Linked DNA regions of Homo sapiens. The protein of the gene in region 1 purifies or fractionates together with the protein of each later gene. This does not show direct contact. Each region holds a gene or a part of one and is shown on either strand. Other genes may lie near its edges.

Region 1 (3,500 bases):
TTTTTTAATCCTGTTCCATCACATTTGATAATGCTAGGTATTCTTAGTAAAATTAAAAAACCGTGACACTGTAATTCCATACAACTTAAAATTAATAAACATCTGCTCAATTTCAAAAGAGAAAAAAGTATTTCTAATGTGATTACTGAATATTTTTTTTTTGTGGAGGGACAGAGTCTTGCTCTGTCTCCCAGGCCAGAGTGCATGGCGCAATCTTGGCTCACTGTAACCTCTGCCTCCCAGTTTCCAGTGATTCTCCTGCCTCAGCCTCCCAAATAGCTGGAATTACAGGGACCTGCCACCACGCCCAGCTAATTTTTGTATTTTTTAGTAGAGACAGGGTTTTGCCATGTTGGCCAAGCTGGTCTCGAACTCCTGACCTCAGGTGACCCACCTGCCTCAGCCTCCCAAAGTGCTGGGATTACAGGTGTGAGCCACTGCGCCCAGCCTACTGATCTTTTTTTTTTTTTTTATCATACTTTAAGTTTTAGTGTACATGTGCACATTGTGCAGGTTAGTTACATATGTAATTAGGTTTAGATGTTCTGAATGGTTTTAAAACCAGGCACCTGAAAAGTGAAAAGCACTAAGCCTTAATATCATGTCTATGCAAAAAAAGCAAATTCAAGAACTATGCATTTAGCTTGTAAATTAAAAGTCATCATCATGACTAATCTGAATAATTCTGGTCAAAGTGGACCAGATGTAGATAAAGCTTTTATCTACATTTAACTGCGCATCACTTCATTTGTTAACAGAAGACAAACTCATGAGCAATAGGGTATCTGAGCGATAATTTGCTGTTTCCTCCCACTCCTGTTTGACTTCAAGCAATTTAAGGATCCAACCAATCCCTAAACATTTACCAGCCCACCCCTGTTTGCTCTCCACTGAATGTGCCAATTTGCATCATGACGCCTACATGTTGTTAGAGAAATTTCTTGTAGATCCAAAGTTCTTTTGTTGTTGTTGGTGGTGTTTTTTTGTTGTTGTTGTTGTTGTTGTTGTTGTTTGCTTTTTTGAGACAGGGTCTCACTTTGTTGACCAAACTGGACTGTAGTGCATGATCACTGCTCACTGCAGCCTCGACTTCCCAGACTCAGGTGATTCTCCCACCTCAGCTTCCCAGTAGCTGGGACTGCAGGTGTGTACCTCCACGCCAGGCTAGTTTTTTGTATTTTTTGCAGAGATGGGGTCTCACCAGGTTGCTCAGGATGGTCTCAAACTCCTGGGCTCAAGTGATCCACCTGCCTCAGCCTCCCAAATTCTTGGGATTACAGGTGTGAGCCCCTGTGCCTGGCCAGATCCAAATTTTAATGTGGATCACTTAGTTTAGTACCACTCTGAAGAAAACAAAACAGGTTTTTCTATTCAAATACTAGCTTAGCATAATTTTTTCTAACCTAGTTCAAAAGTAAATGTCCATAGGACCATACTTAGTGAACCACTTCCCCAGGCAAGACAAGTTTCACTGGGGTCAACATGAAGCAGCGTTTGAAAGTACAGTTCAGTTCTTGATGAAGTTAAAGACACATGAAGTAATTACCTGCTTCAGTAACAACCACATTCTGATGGGTGTCTCCTGGTTGATTTGTAAGATAAGGCTTTTCTACAGGGGCTGTTGGATTAATCTCTGTAAATAATAAGAACCACCATCATATATAATGATTAAACAAGAGAATTGAAAATATATATAAATATGAAATTATATTATAAAATAAAAACATCACAATTTTGATTTCTGAACAGCTTACAGCTAATAAAATACATTCTGAATTTAAATTTACATGAAATTATCTAACTATAAAGTCAACATTTAATTCTCTTTGAATAAAAGATGGAGTTGATATGTTCTCCCTTAAAACTCCAAATTGCAATTAGCAATCAACAGTGGGTCTGTGCTGATGATAGCCTGCTGCAGGCAATAATGGCGGACCAGTCACAAAGTTAAGCAAGGATAACCAAGAATTGGCAAACGTAAGAGTGTGATATATTAAATGCAGTTCAGAGACAAGCAAGATAATTTCTTTACTAATATCAGTGTATTATTTGGGTTTCCCCTTGCAATAATAATCAGCAGATGACTGTATGTGGATTGCATTTGGAATTGATGATTCAAGTAACAACGTTCTAAGCCACATTTCTGTTCTGCATATACAATGCCATCCTTAGATTTGCTTTCCAATAGTGTCTACTTTTAAAAATAATAATAATAACACTAAATTAAAGCTTGCAAGTTGTTTCTTTCCCTAGTTTTATAGATGTCTCTTCAATTTCCACACACTTTATTTTTTATTGTTCTTCTAACTTTTAAGTTCAGGGGTACATGTGCAGAATGTGCAGGTTTGTTACGTGGGTAAACGTGTGCCATGGTGCGGTGCTGCACAGATCATTCCATCACCTAAGTATGAAGCCCAGCATCCATTAACTATTATTCCTGGCTTTTTTTTCTCTTGCTACACACTTTAAAATTGTTGAAGTTTATTGTCATGATTTCGTATTGCTCTATTTTCTATTTTTCTTTTCCTTAAGGAACTATTTGTTAAATCAATAATTCAATGAAAATAAATTGAATTATTTAAAAAAAAGCCTGTAAATTTGTTTCCATTTGTTCCAAAAGTGTAACTCTCTACTTTTATCAATTGAAATAAGAACCCATGTTCTTATATAGTCTTCAGGATAGAGAAGAATTTTAATTTAATGTTTACCATTCTTACATTGCCTTAAAATGTCACAGAGTCCCCCTTTGTTGGAAGTTTAATCATAATCCATTCTGTAGAAATATTTGTTACTCTTGTACACAGATTTAACTCTGACATTTTAATAGCCTCCTCTGGGTTTCAGATTCAGTCCTAGACTATACCTACTCTTCTAGAGAACTTAGTCACTCTATGCCTAGTCAACTGGTATTTTTAAACAAATAATATAAATATTATGCAAAATATCACTAAAAATCAAGCACTGATTACATAACCAAGGAATTTAATCAAACCAACATCCTTTACTAAGCAGACACTAAGCTCAAGGAGGGTTAACTAAATATAAATAAAAAGACAAAAAAGATTAAATCATGAAATAAAAAATAAAAATCCTGAGCACATTAATAAGGCCAACAGTAAACCCGTGAATGTGCTTCAAAACAAAAACTACATAAAATAATATTTTAATAAATATAGATTATTTGAAGATTTGGGTAGAATGGAGAAGATAAAGAAAGAATAATTTTATATCATAAATGCTCTTGCATGAGTAATGTAAACCTAGATTACCTAATACATAAACAAGTAAAGAAGATTGTAAGATTTACAGTGTCCTAAATAATGGCATAAATTTTGATGCAAAAATAAAATAAATATAATACAATGAAGGGTCAAATAGTTGACCTTTGAACTCAAAAGAAAGGAGAAGGCGATAATGTAATATTAAGAATAATGCATAATATTGTACTTGTATTATCCAGTAGTCTTAAGTACATAGAATGTCACAAATTTAAAATATCA
Region 2 (3,324 bases), on another chromosome or scaffold:
TGTACATTTAATACTGAAAACATTATGTTTACTATTTATAAGTGTAAACCATAGTGTCCAATAAAATACACAGATAAACACACACACACACACGCACAATTTCTCTCACAATAATAAAATCCCTTAATAATTCACACCTTTAAAATATTTATACTCAAATATTTTGTCAATACTTTTCTATAGTCAGTTCATTATTTGTCTTCTTTATGGAAATTCCTAAGTAAAAATAGTGGCAAATTGGTCTTTTAACTAGAAAAATTACAAAATCCTCCTATCTAAAAAATGATACTACCTCCAGGACGTCTGCAATTTTGTAAATTTTTCTTCCTTAGTAGACAACATACTTCCTGGTAAAAGAAAGCCAAAAGATGGTAAACCTCTTTGAATTGGATTCTTCTTTGATCCCAACCCACTCTAAATTTTGGTAGCTAGACCTTTAACTTGAAACGATCAAATTAAAGACCCTTTCAAATATTATACATGCTGCCTTAATTATTATTTAGTTGTATCTCCAACATCTTTGGGGGAGCAGGAAGGAAGGGGGGGTAACAAAAACTTCATTGCTTCAGGTAGGTATAAGTATAGAGGTCAATCACATTTTTAGTTGTACATCAAAAATAACTAACATCCATTAAATTATAAAACTTCTCCAGCCCTATTCACTATTTAATTGGGTATGGAGTTATTCATTTGTATCACTCTTATCATTGCCTGTGTAGAATATACTTATTATTAATACTATTCTACTAATTTTTCTATTATTTCCAATTCTGAATTGATAATCCATGGCTTTTATTTCATTGCTTAACAATGTTTGTATCCTTTATTTAGCAAATAGTTTACACTGGCCTATTTTGTATCAGTCAAGATTTTTCTCAGGTAACAGCTTTATTATTATTTTTATTTTAATTAACAAAGGTAGGATTACATAAGAAAAGAAAACTAAAATTATGAAAAGGGACCTTAAAGCTAGTGTTTCTAATTTTATGGACATTGCCATATATAATCTAATCAAAGTGGAAGATTCGTTTTTGTTGTCTATTTTTGTACAAAATGATGCCACTGAACTCAGATGTCTTTGTTGACTTTGCTTTATTATATAGCCTGAATAAAAAGTAATGAAATGTAATTGGTATATAAATTAAACCTCAAATATGAAGGCTGTTAACGTAGGTGAGAAAAATGATATGTATGCATTTTCTTTTATTTGTAAGCATATTTTCTTTTAAAATTATTTCACAAATTACAAATGTTCCTACTAATAGGAAAGCCAAATATTATGCACTAGTGGTACTTACTGGAAATTTTAGAATTCATTTATTTATATTTACTACCTCTTGCATTTATGCTTTTCTTTCTCTAAATTTGTAAACTGTAAGCTGAATATATGTTGCTGAATCTATGCTATATGACAAAACATTTTTAATCGTTATATTTTTACTAATGCATCAAAGGGTTGGAATGATCCTCTTCGTGTAGTTTCATCTTTAGGCAGAACTATATTCTTTGGATTGAGGCTTTACTTGAAAGCCTATTTTTTTAATGTTCTAGAACTTTATTAGAAAAGTTTAAAAGAGCCCTCACAATTTAAAAAACTAATTTTATTGTTTTAAAATGTTTTAAGGGTTTATCCCTAAGAAATTAAACAAGCACAATCTATTACTTGCAATTTTTATTTCACAGCACATATTGCTAATAAATGCCATTTTAAAAGCAAAAGAAAATCTATCACAATCGTTGCAAGAGATATTTAATAAGGAAACTAATGTAAATCATGCTTCATGCTATCTGTCAGTTAAATCAAGATATAGGTGAAGATTTAGGTTTTATCATGTGAATATTGTGTGGTAGTGCACATTAATTTGTATTTAAATCTTTACATTGTTATCATTGCATGTGTTCACTGTATTTTTTAATGTGTCACTGTTTTCTCTTTATAGATTAGTATTTCAAAGTAACCATTCCATACCAATTCAAACTACCATCTGGTCCCTAAGCTTGTTATATGAAAATCTTTTATCATTGTCTTCCATTGTAAGTGTTTTATGATGAGCTACACCTGAGTTGTACATTTTCTTTTTCTTTTATTTGCTTCTGTATACAGGCTGGCTTAGCAGGAGCTCCAGCCCGTGCTGTATCAGCTGTAAAGAATATGAATCTTCCTGAGATCCCAAGAAATATTAACATTGGTGACATCAGTATAAAAGTGCCAAACCTGCCCTCTTTTAAATAAAAATGTAAAAAGGCCACTCCCAGGTAAAATCCAGGGGGAAGAGTCATCTAAGTTTACCATGCAGTTGTTTACCAAAAATAGAGGAGGAGAGTCTTAACTTTTGCTCTTGGATTTAAGTCAAGGTACTGTATAGAAGTTGTGTAAAATCAGTATGAAAGTTCAATGTTGCTGTTCTTGCTCAGTGATTTTAAAGAAATTGAGTAGTTCCTATGTGATTTTTTTTTTTCTTTTCTAAACTGCATTCCTGTGCCCACCTACGGCATGCCTCTATGTATTGGCTACTACAGTGTTTTAAAAAGTGTTTCAGATATTTCTCTAATTATGTACAACCTAAAATGTTGGTGTTTTGTATGGATCACAAGTGCAGCATTCCTTAATTCCTTCTGCTATATGTCACACAGTTGTTATTTGGAGAACCAAGTATGTATTGCATGAAAACATTATGACTTTTTTCTCTTAGTTTAAATAAACTCCAAGGTAACTGGACTTCTAAAGCACCTTTCTGTTTGCCTGATATCTACTTTAGCAATAATTTTTTTTACAACCCTCTGACTCAACAAAGTAAATAAAAGTATATTTTATCACTATTAAGCAGATGTTAATGTCGATTTATTTTTTACTCATATTTTTAATATTCAGAAACTCAGTAAATTATTCGGAAACTCAATTATTTCACAAATCAAGAGCAGTGTATCTTAGGCATATTGCGCAAGATGAGATCTGGAGTGGGGGGGCGACAGTCTTTCTAAAATGTATATTGAGAAAATGTAAAATCTTTTTTATACAAATAGCTTTAAGCCTTGCCTCTTGTTCCTTCTTGCCCAGATGGTAAAAAATAATTTCAGCCAATACCTAATTGATTTTGAATACAAAAACCCTTGGGACTCTACTTGTCTGTTTCATCCTAAAACAAAGTTAAACTAATGTTTTCTTAAGTCCTAACACTCACATATTCTAGTTTCTTATAATTGGCCCACATTTTATTTGGTCTTCCATGAACTGTGAGTGAGGTTACTTTTCCAGTTAGACTAAGGTTTTCCTTACAGTTCTAGTTCTCCTTCCTCAAATATTCTCTTTGAAATACTTCCATA
Region 3 (3,500 bases), on another chromosome or scaffold:
AGGCAAATTTCATTGGACCATAAGGCTCAAGAATAATCCTTTGCTGGCCAGGCACGGTGGCTCATGCCTGTAATCCCAGCACTTTGGGAGGCTGAGGCAGGCAGATCACGAAGTCAGGAGTTTGAGACCACCCTGGCCAATATGGTGAAACCCTGTCTCTACTAAAAATACAAAAATTAGCCGGGCATGGTGGTGCGTGCCTGTAGTCCCAGCTACTAGGGAGGCTGAGGCAGAAGAATCACTTCAACGCAGGAGGCAGAGGAGATTGCAGTGACATGAGATCATGCCACTGCACTCCAGCCTGAGTGACAGAGTGAGACTCCATCTCAAAAAAATAATAATAATTAAAAAAAGAATGATCCTTTGCTTTGATGCTCTGCCTTCCAGGCCCACTGCAGTAGCAGAATCACCCTACTGCTCTGTGGGGTGGCCCTGCCCCTTCCTCTCTCTGCAAGGGCCCCACCCTCTGAAACCAAGGACGACATAGCATTGCCCCCTGGGCTTATGGTAAGAGTGACAGCTCTGAGGATCTGTGATCCCCTTTGGCACCATTCTTTCCTTTTCTTGAGGAATAGGGCACATTCACAGTCAAGTAGCTCATGGTTTTCTCTTGTGGAATCAAGGAAGTCCAACAGCCTTCGTTCATTCTTTCCCACTTACTCTGTCCTCTTTACTTCAAACTAGCAGTGTTTCTGCTGTTATAATCCCTTATCTATCACTGGCTTCTGCTGAGATGGCTGATTAACATCATGGATAATCTATTTATAGAGTCATTGTTCAACCGTACCTTTGGTCTTCTCTCTAGAGCAAGCTTTCTTATTTTTAGCAATATGGATAGGCTGAGAATTTTCTACATCTCTAAGTTCTGGTTCCTTCTTGCTGAACAATTCCTTCTTCAATTCATCTGTCTCCTCTTTCATTTTTACTATAAGTGGTCTAGGAGAAACCAAGCCACTTCCTCTACACTTTGCTTAGAAATCTCCTGAGATAAATAGCCAATTTCATTTCTCACAAGTTTTACCTTCCATAAAATACTAGAACACAGCCAAGTTCTTTGCCACTTTATACTAAGCACCAGCTTTCCTTCAGTTTCCAGTAACTTGTTCCTCATTTCTGTATAAATCCTCACCAGAATAGCCGGGCATGGTGGCTCACACCTGTAATCCCAGCACTTTGGGAGGCTGAGGTGGGCGGATTGCCTGAGGTCAGGAGTTCAAGACCAGTCTGGCCAACATGGTGAAACCCCGTCTCTACTAAAAATACAAAAAAATTAGCTGGGTGTGGTGGCGTGTGCCTGTTAATCCCAGCTACTAGGGAGTCTGAGGCGGGAGAATTGCTTGAACCAGGGAGGTGGAGGTTGCAGTGAGCCAAGAACGCACCACTGCACTCCAGCCTGGGCAACAGAGCGAGACTCCATCTGAAAAAAAAAAAAAGCCTCACCAGAATTGCCCTTAATGTCCATATTTTCAGTATGTGCCTCAAAACTGTTCCAGCCTTTGCTTATTACCCAATTTGAAAATCACTTCCACATTTTAGGTATTTGTTATAGTAGTACCTTGCTTCTCTCACTACCTAACCCACCATACCTCATTTCTTGATACTAAAATTTGTTGTGGTCACCTCAGGCTGCCATAACAAAAATACTATAGTCTGAGTGGCTTGAACAACAGAAATTTTATTTTCTTACAGTTCTGGAGACTAGAAGCTCAAGATAAGGTTCTGGCTGATTGGTCTCTGGTGAGAGCTCTCTCCCTGGCATGTAGATGGCCACCTTCTTGCTGTGTCCTCATGGGGAGGAAGGAGGAAGAGTGAGCTCTTTGGTGTCTTTTCTTCAAGGACACTAATCCTCTCAAATCAGGATGTCATTCTCATGACCTAATTTTACGTTAATTACTACCTTAGAGGCCCTCTCTCCAAATACAGTCACACTGGGAGATAGGGCTTCAATTTACGAATATTGGGGGGACACAGCAGTGGTCATGTGTGGAGTCATGAAAAATCGAATCAACCTGTGCACATATTCCCAGCTGACGTTGAACAAGGTCATGTTCTGCCTTTTTATTTCAGCTCTCTACTGTAAACAAGTGTCCTTTTCACAGTCTTTATAATGCCACTTTTTTTTGCATTTTTGTGCTTTTTATTAGTGTTCACCTGTTCTTCATCACTTCAACCAGTTTCATTTTCTTATAATTATCGGAAATTACCTTATTTGTGTGTTTGTTTGCATATTAATGGTCCCTTACTCCACTAAAACATAACCTCCAAGAGAGCAGGGACCTTCTCTCTTATTTACTATATTCTTCTCTCTTATTTACTATATCATCCCCAATGCCTGGAACAGTAAATAGCATATAGGAAAGGAGGTGTCAATTAATACTTGCTAAATGAAGAAACAAATACTCTAAATAAAACAACTTACTTAGGCATTGCTTCATAAAAGCCTCTTGTTTAATCCAACCCTTACTAGATAGAAAAAAACATAGCATTGGAGTCTTTTGTTTGTTTACATTTGGGTTAGTTTCCAGATTCTTTTTGATTTGGGGATCTTAAGGTTTATATATTGGTTTATTTTTCTAACTTCACTGTTTATTTTTTGCTTTGGGGGGGGCTTTCTTTTGAAAGGGTTTTGCTCTGTCCCCCAGGCTGGAGTGCATGGCAGGGTTTCACCACGTTGGCCAGGCTGGTCTCAAACTCCTGACCTCGTGATCCACCTGCTTCGGCCTCCCAAAGTGCTGGGATTACAGATGTGAGCCACCGCGCCCAGCCTGAAGGTTTTTTTGTTTTTTGTTTTTTGTTTTAGGAAACATAAAAAGAACCCGGAAGGTAAAATTGGTATATTTAATTGACAAATGTGTTGTTTTACCAAGACTTTTTCTTTAAGCCTTTTCAGAATGTTTTACAAAGACTTTAAATGTGCTTTTTATCAGTAAAGACTGTGTACAGTGGCAAGTTAAAGAAAATTATAATTATTCCTTTTTCTTTTTGAATTACTTTTTTTTTTTTTTTTTTTTGAGACAAAGTCTCACTCTGTCGCCCAGGCTGGAGTACAGTGGCGCAACCTCTGCCACCAGGGTTCAAGAGATTCTCCTGCCTCAGCCTCCTGAGTACCTGGGATTACAGGTGCCTGCCACTGTGCCTGGCTAATTTTTGTAGTTTTAGCAGAGATGGGGTTTCACCATCTTGGCCAGGCTGGTCTTGAACTCCTGACCTCGTGATCCACCTGCCTCGGCCTCCCAAAGTGCTGGGATTACAGGTGTGAGCCACCGCGCCCAGCCTTTGAATTACTTTTTTAAAGTTGAGAAATTATCAAAGCAGAGTCCGTTTTAACTTTTAGTGATTATTGCAGAAAGCACTGGCTGAACAGCTTTGTAACTTTCCAAAAGAAAGCCATACTTTAGACAGTTGGAAATAAAGCCCTGGGTTTTAAGGTTTTTTCCTGTAATGGACTATGGTTTTTCCAATGCTATGTTTTTTTCTATCTAGTAAGGGTTGGATTAAAG
Region 4 (3,500 bases), on another chromosome or scaffold:
CCTGAAGGGAGAGAGAGAGATATCCCAGCTTCCTCAGAGACGCAGTAGCATAGTGGGGGCACCCCAGAGGGCTTCCCTCCTTCCAGCCCTCCATGCCTTTGCCTACCGGCTCACTCATCTCCCTCACCTCCTTCAGACTCCACGTGCCTGGATGCCTTTCATGGGTCACCATTTATTCTTTTGGACACATGCATAGCCCATGGGCAAGCTCCTCTGTCCTCACCAGCCTCCAACTTCCCCTGAGAGGCTTTTTCTCTCCTCTCCTAGGTTCTGCTGACTGTATGTGCTCTCTCTAACCTCAAGAGACTTTTACTGTCTAATGCAATTCATAAAAATAGCACAAGAGTGCCAATTCTTGTCTCTTCATTTCGTTTGCATCCTTTGTAGACATCCTGACTCAGGCTGTGCTTTTTCTAACTCATTTACAATTAAGATAATGCTGGGTTGTTGAACGCTTCTTTCTTTGTTTTTCCTTCTCTACATCTTTCTGCCTTGTATTTTTTCTCTCCCTTCTCTCATTTCTCAATTTCCCTTCCTGGGGCTAATGATGTTTTAATTATTTGTCTTCCCCTTGGATCCAAAGCGGTCCCCAGGGAACTTGCCAGCACAGTCACAGTGGCCATATAGATAGGAGATGGCGTCAGGGTTTGGGACTGCCCAGTCTTGCTCCTCAAGATACCTCCACCCTGGGTGCCTCCCTGTCACTCCCCAAGCACACACCCTCTCCAGGCCCTTTCAAAGGAGGCAGCTCCTCATTTGTCTACTCGTGTATACTCACATCATCACCAGGCTTTCCAGGGGGACCAGGAGGACCACGGGGACCCATGGGACCCTACAAACAAAGGAAGATAGTTTAAGAGATGGTTATAGTGGGAAGACACCTAAGCAATGGACAAAACTTTGACATTGTAGTTTTGGAAGCCAGTTCTTCTATGAAGAAGAAAGATGGGAAGGTCAGAGCAAAGGTGCAGAGATCATAGTGGGACGCAGCAGATAGCACAGGCTGGGGTGACCCGGAAAGGGGGCTGTTAGGACAGAGTCCCTGGTGGTCCTTGCCACATTGGGCTGTCTGTCAGAGTTCCTCCACAGCTAGGAAGTGACATCCGAATTTCCTTGGGGCCACCGACTGTGGGAAAGAGCTGGGCAGAGCCTGGGAGGGACAGCAGCTGCGGTCCTAGTGGTCTATCATTAGAGGCTCCCCCAGAGAAGGGACAGGGCCGTGCTGGTACTCACAGAGACACCAGGTTCACCAGGTTCACCAGGATTGCCTTGAAATCCTTGAGGCCCCTAAAAAGTAAAATGAGGATACCAGGTCAATCCCTATAAACTGCTAAAACATCATAGTGCTTGGGAATCATCTGCGACACGATGGAGGCAAAAAGAATTGCAGATACTTACAGGAGCACCTGCAGGGCCTGGAGGTCCTCGAGGTCCCATGGGGCCCTGCATCGGAACAGAAAATGAGGGGTTTACTACACATGCTTCCTCAGTGGCCTCCAGTGTGCCATCTTCTCCCAGCCAACAGCCCGGGCAAAGGACAAGAAGTTACTCTGTGGGCAAGGGGCCTAGAGTGGCTGCTCCCTCTCATTTCCCACTCCCCACGCAACACTCTATTTTTATTTATAGGCACCATTTGGACAGAAAAGCTGGCCTTGCTTTCTCCTGGACAGCAGCCATGTTTACTAAAGGCTGAGTTTCATTTAGCATGTGCCAAGTCAGAGCTGCGGGCTGAGATTTCCTGCTGGAAGTCTGTGGATGCTGGAGAACAGTAGCTGCTGTCTGCATTCTTCAGTTCTCATTCCAAGAGCAATAGCAACTGGTCTTCTAACAGATCAGCCTATATGCATCTCCCCATCTTCATTCTTCTTAGTCACTCCAGCGCATCATTAAAAGTGGCATCCATTGCCATTAAAAACCAAATGCTTTGGGCTAGCTGAATGGGAGGTTACATAACTACGGAGGAGAGCCACTCTAAGCAATTATCTGTAAAGCAGAGGTTGTCAGACTCTCTGGCTCTGCTAAGGGCCACCTCCTGCCATTTTGGCTGCAAAGAACTAGTGTCTTTTCTTACCATTGGTCCTTGCATTACTCCCAACTGGGCGCCACCAGCCTTTTCATCAAATCCTCCAGCCATCTGGGCAGCAAAGTTCTGCAAAGAAACCCAACAACGTTAGGAGGTTGAAAGGCACTAGGTCTTCCCTACTTGGCTAGGTAAGCTCTATATGGATACAAAGAACTCTACTGAGATAAACTCTGATTGTTGGAGACTAACCTATCATTGATCAGAATTACCACTGATGCCTGGAAAGTAATTTTGGGAATGGATTATTAGATGACAGTGGCAAAATCATTTCACTGGAAGGGAAAGTGTTATTTGAGGAAGTATCAGTTCCTTGCATTTCATTTTATAAAATTATTTTTATGCTCTAAAATATGACAGATGTTATTTAACGTATATGGAGAAACATAACCAAACCTTCTAAGGGTGTTCTTTATTCTTTAAGACTTTAGTGCCCAGCAAAAGACTAAAATCAACAGTCTTGGAATATTTCAGCAAGAGATGTAGTAGGCATCTGTGATCCCATTTGAGTTTAAGAATTTAAAATACAGCAAACATCAAAATAGCAAACCTGCAAAAACTAGGCAATCATATAATTTGTTGATTGGTTTGATTCCAGAATTGACTTTAGCCACACACCTTCACTCAGTGGAGCTCTTTCATGAGAGTGAATAGTTGCTTGGAATGTACTTGGCAAGAACCAAGGATAAATGTCTTCCAAGGACAGTGGTCACTCGTCTTCCAGGGAAATACAAGTGCCCAGTCATCCTTCCTCCTATCCCTTACACCCACCCCCCAGCATCAACTACGTGGTACAGATGCCAGGAAGCCAGGTAACTGAGGACTTTCTTTATAGAATCCCAGTTAGTGAAAAAAGCCAGCCCTTAGCACCACAGTCTCATGCCTAATATGTGACTCTTCTAAATTACAGGCCTGAGGGCAAAGCCCATGGACAGGCTATGTACACACTGCTGGCAGCCCTGGGAGCCAGCCAGGTAAGTGCAAGCAGCAATTTAAAAGCCACATTTCTGGAGGGACAGCCTGAAGGAATGGGAAGTAAGGATACTTACTCCACCAAGACCAGGGGGACCAGGGGGGCCGGGAGGACCAGGGGGGCCAGGATTTCCAGGGGTCCCAGGTTCTCCATCTCTGCCACGAGGTCCAGGGGCACCCTTGGCATAAAGAGAAAAAGGCATCAATGGGAAGCAGTGTTTCTCCAAGAGCCATCTGTCCCTTGGCTGCTCTTTAAGAGGTGACCAGGCCCTTAAACACATGGTGGGGCCTTGGGGGACCTGGGAAGTCCACCAGGGTCAAGCAGCATTGCTTTTTACTCACTTTTTCACCTTTGTCACCACGATCCCCTCTGGGTCCTTGTTCCCCTGCAGGTCCCTGAAGGTGAAGAACATGGTAAGATGACAGCAAGGCCAGGAGCCTGCAGATC

Evidence for each region. The genes of interacting proteins can lie anywhere in the genome.
Region 2: the proteins of CHODL (region 1) and AP3S1 purify together in Homo sapiens (affinity purification with mass spectrometry; one large-scale study listed by BioGRID and IntAct). This does not show direct contact.
Region 3: the proteins of CHODL (region 1) and RAD51C purify together in Homo sapiens (affinity purification with mass spectrometry; one large-scale study listed by BioGRID and IntAct). This does not show direct contact.
Region 4: the proteins of CHODL (region 1) and COL2A1 purify together in Homo sapiens (affinity purification with mass spectrometry; one large-scale study listed by BioGRID and IntAct). This does not show direct contact.

The regions. Positions count from the first base shown.
Region 1 is NC_000021.9:18,258,333-18,261,832, reverse strand, and holds part of CHODL (chondrolectin isoform a precursor), read right to left. Parts: intron 1,634-3,500; coding exon 1,547-1,633; intron 1-1,546. UniProt on the Homo sapiens protein: May play a role in the development of the nervous system such as in neurite outgrowth and elongation. May be involved in motor axon growth and guidance.
Region 2 is NC_000005.10:115,911,258-115,914,581, forward strand, and holds the end of AP3S1 (AP-3 complex subunit sigma-1), read left to right. Parts: intron 1-831; coding exon of another isoform or gene 832-879; exon of another isoform or gene 880-2,098; intron 2,099-2,104; coding exon 2,105-2,233; 3' UTR 2,234-2,824; downstream 2,825-3,324. UniProt on the Homo sapiens protein: Part of the AP-3 complex, an adaptor-related complex which is not clathrin-associated. The complex is associated with the Golgi region as well as more peripheral structures.
Region 3 is NC_000017.11:58,706,102-58,709,601, forward strand, and holds part of RAD51C (DNA repair protein RAD51 homolog 3), read left to right. Parts: intron 1-3,500. UniProt on the Homo sapiens protein: Essential for the homologous recombination (HR) pathway of DNA repair. Involved in the homologous recombination repair (HRR) pathway of double-stranded DNA breaks arising during DNA replication or induced by DNA-damaging agents.
Region 4 is NC_000012.12:47,994,477-47,997,976, forward strand, and holds part of COL2A1 (collagen alpha-1(II) chain isoform 1 precursor), read right to left. Parts: intron 3,449-3,500; coding exon 3,395-3,448; intron 3,232-3,394; coding exon 3,130-3,231; intron 2,150-3,129; coding exon 2,072-2,149; intron 1,444-2,071; coding exon 1,399-1,443; intron 1,288-1,398; coding exon 1,234-1,287; intron 833-1,233; coding exon 779-832; intron 2-778; coding exon 1-1. UniProt on the Homo sapiens protein: Type II collagen is specific for cartilaginous tissues. It is essential for the normal embryonic development of the skeleton, for linear growth and for the ability of cartilage to resist compressive forces.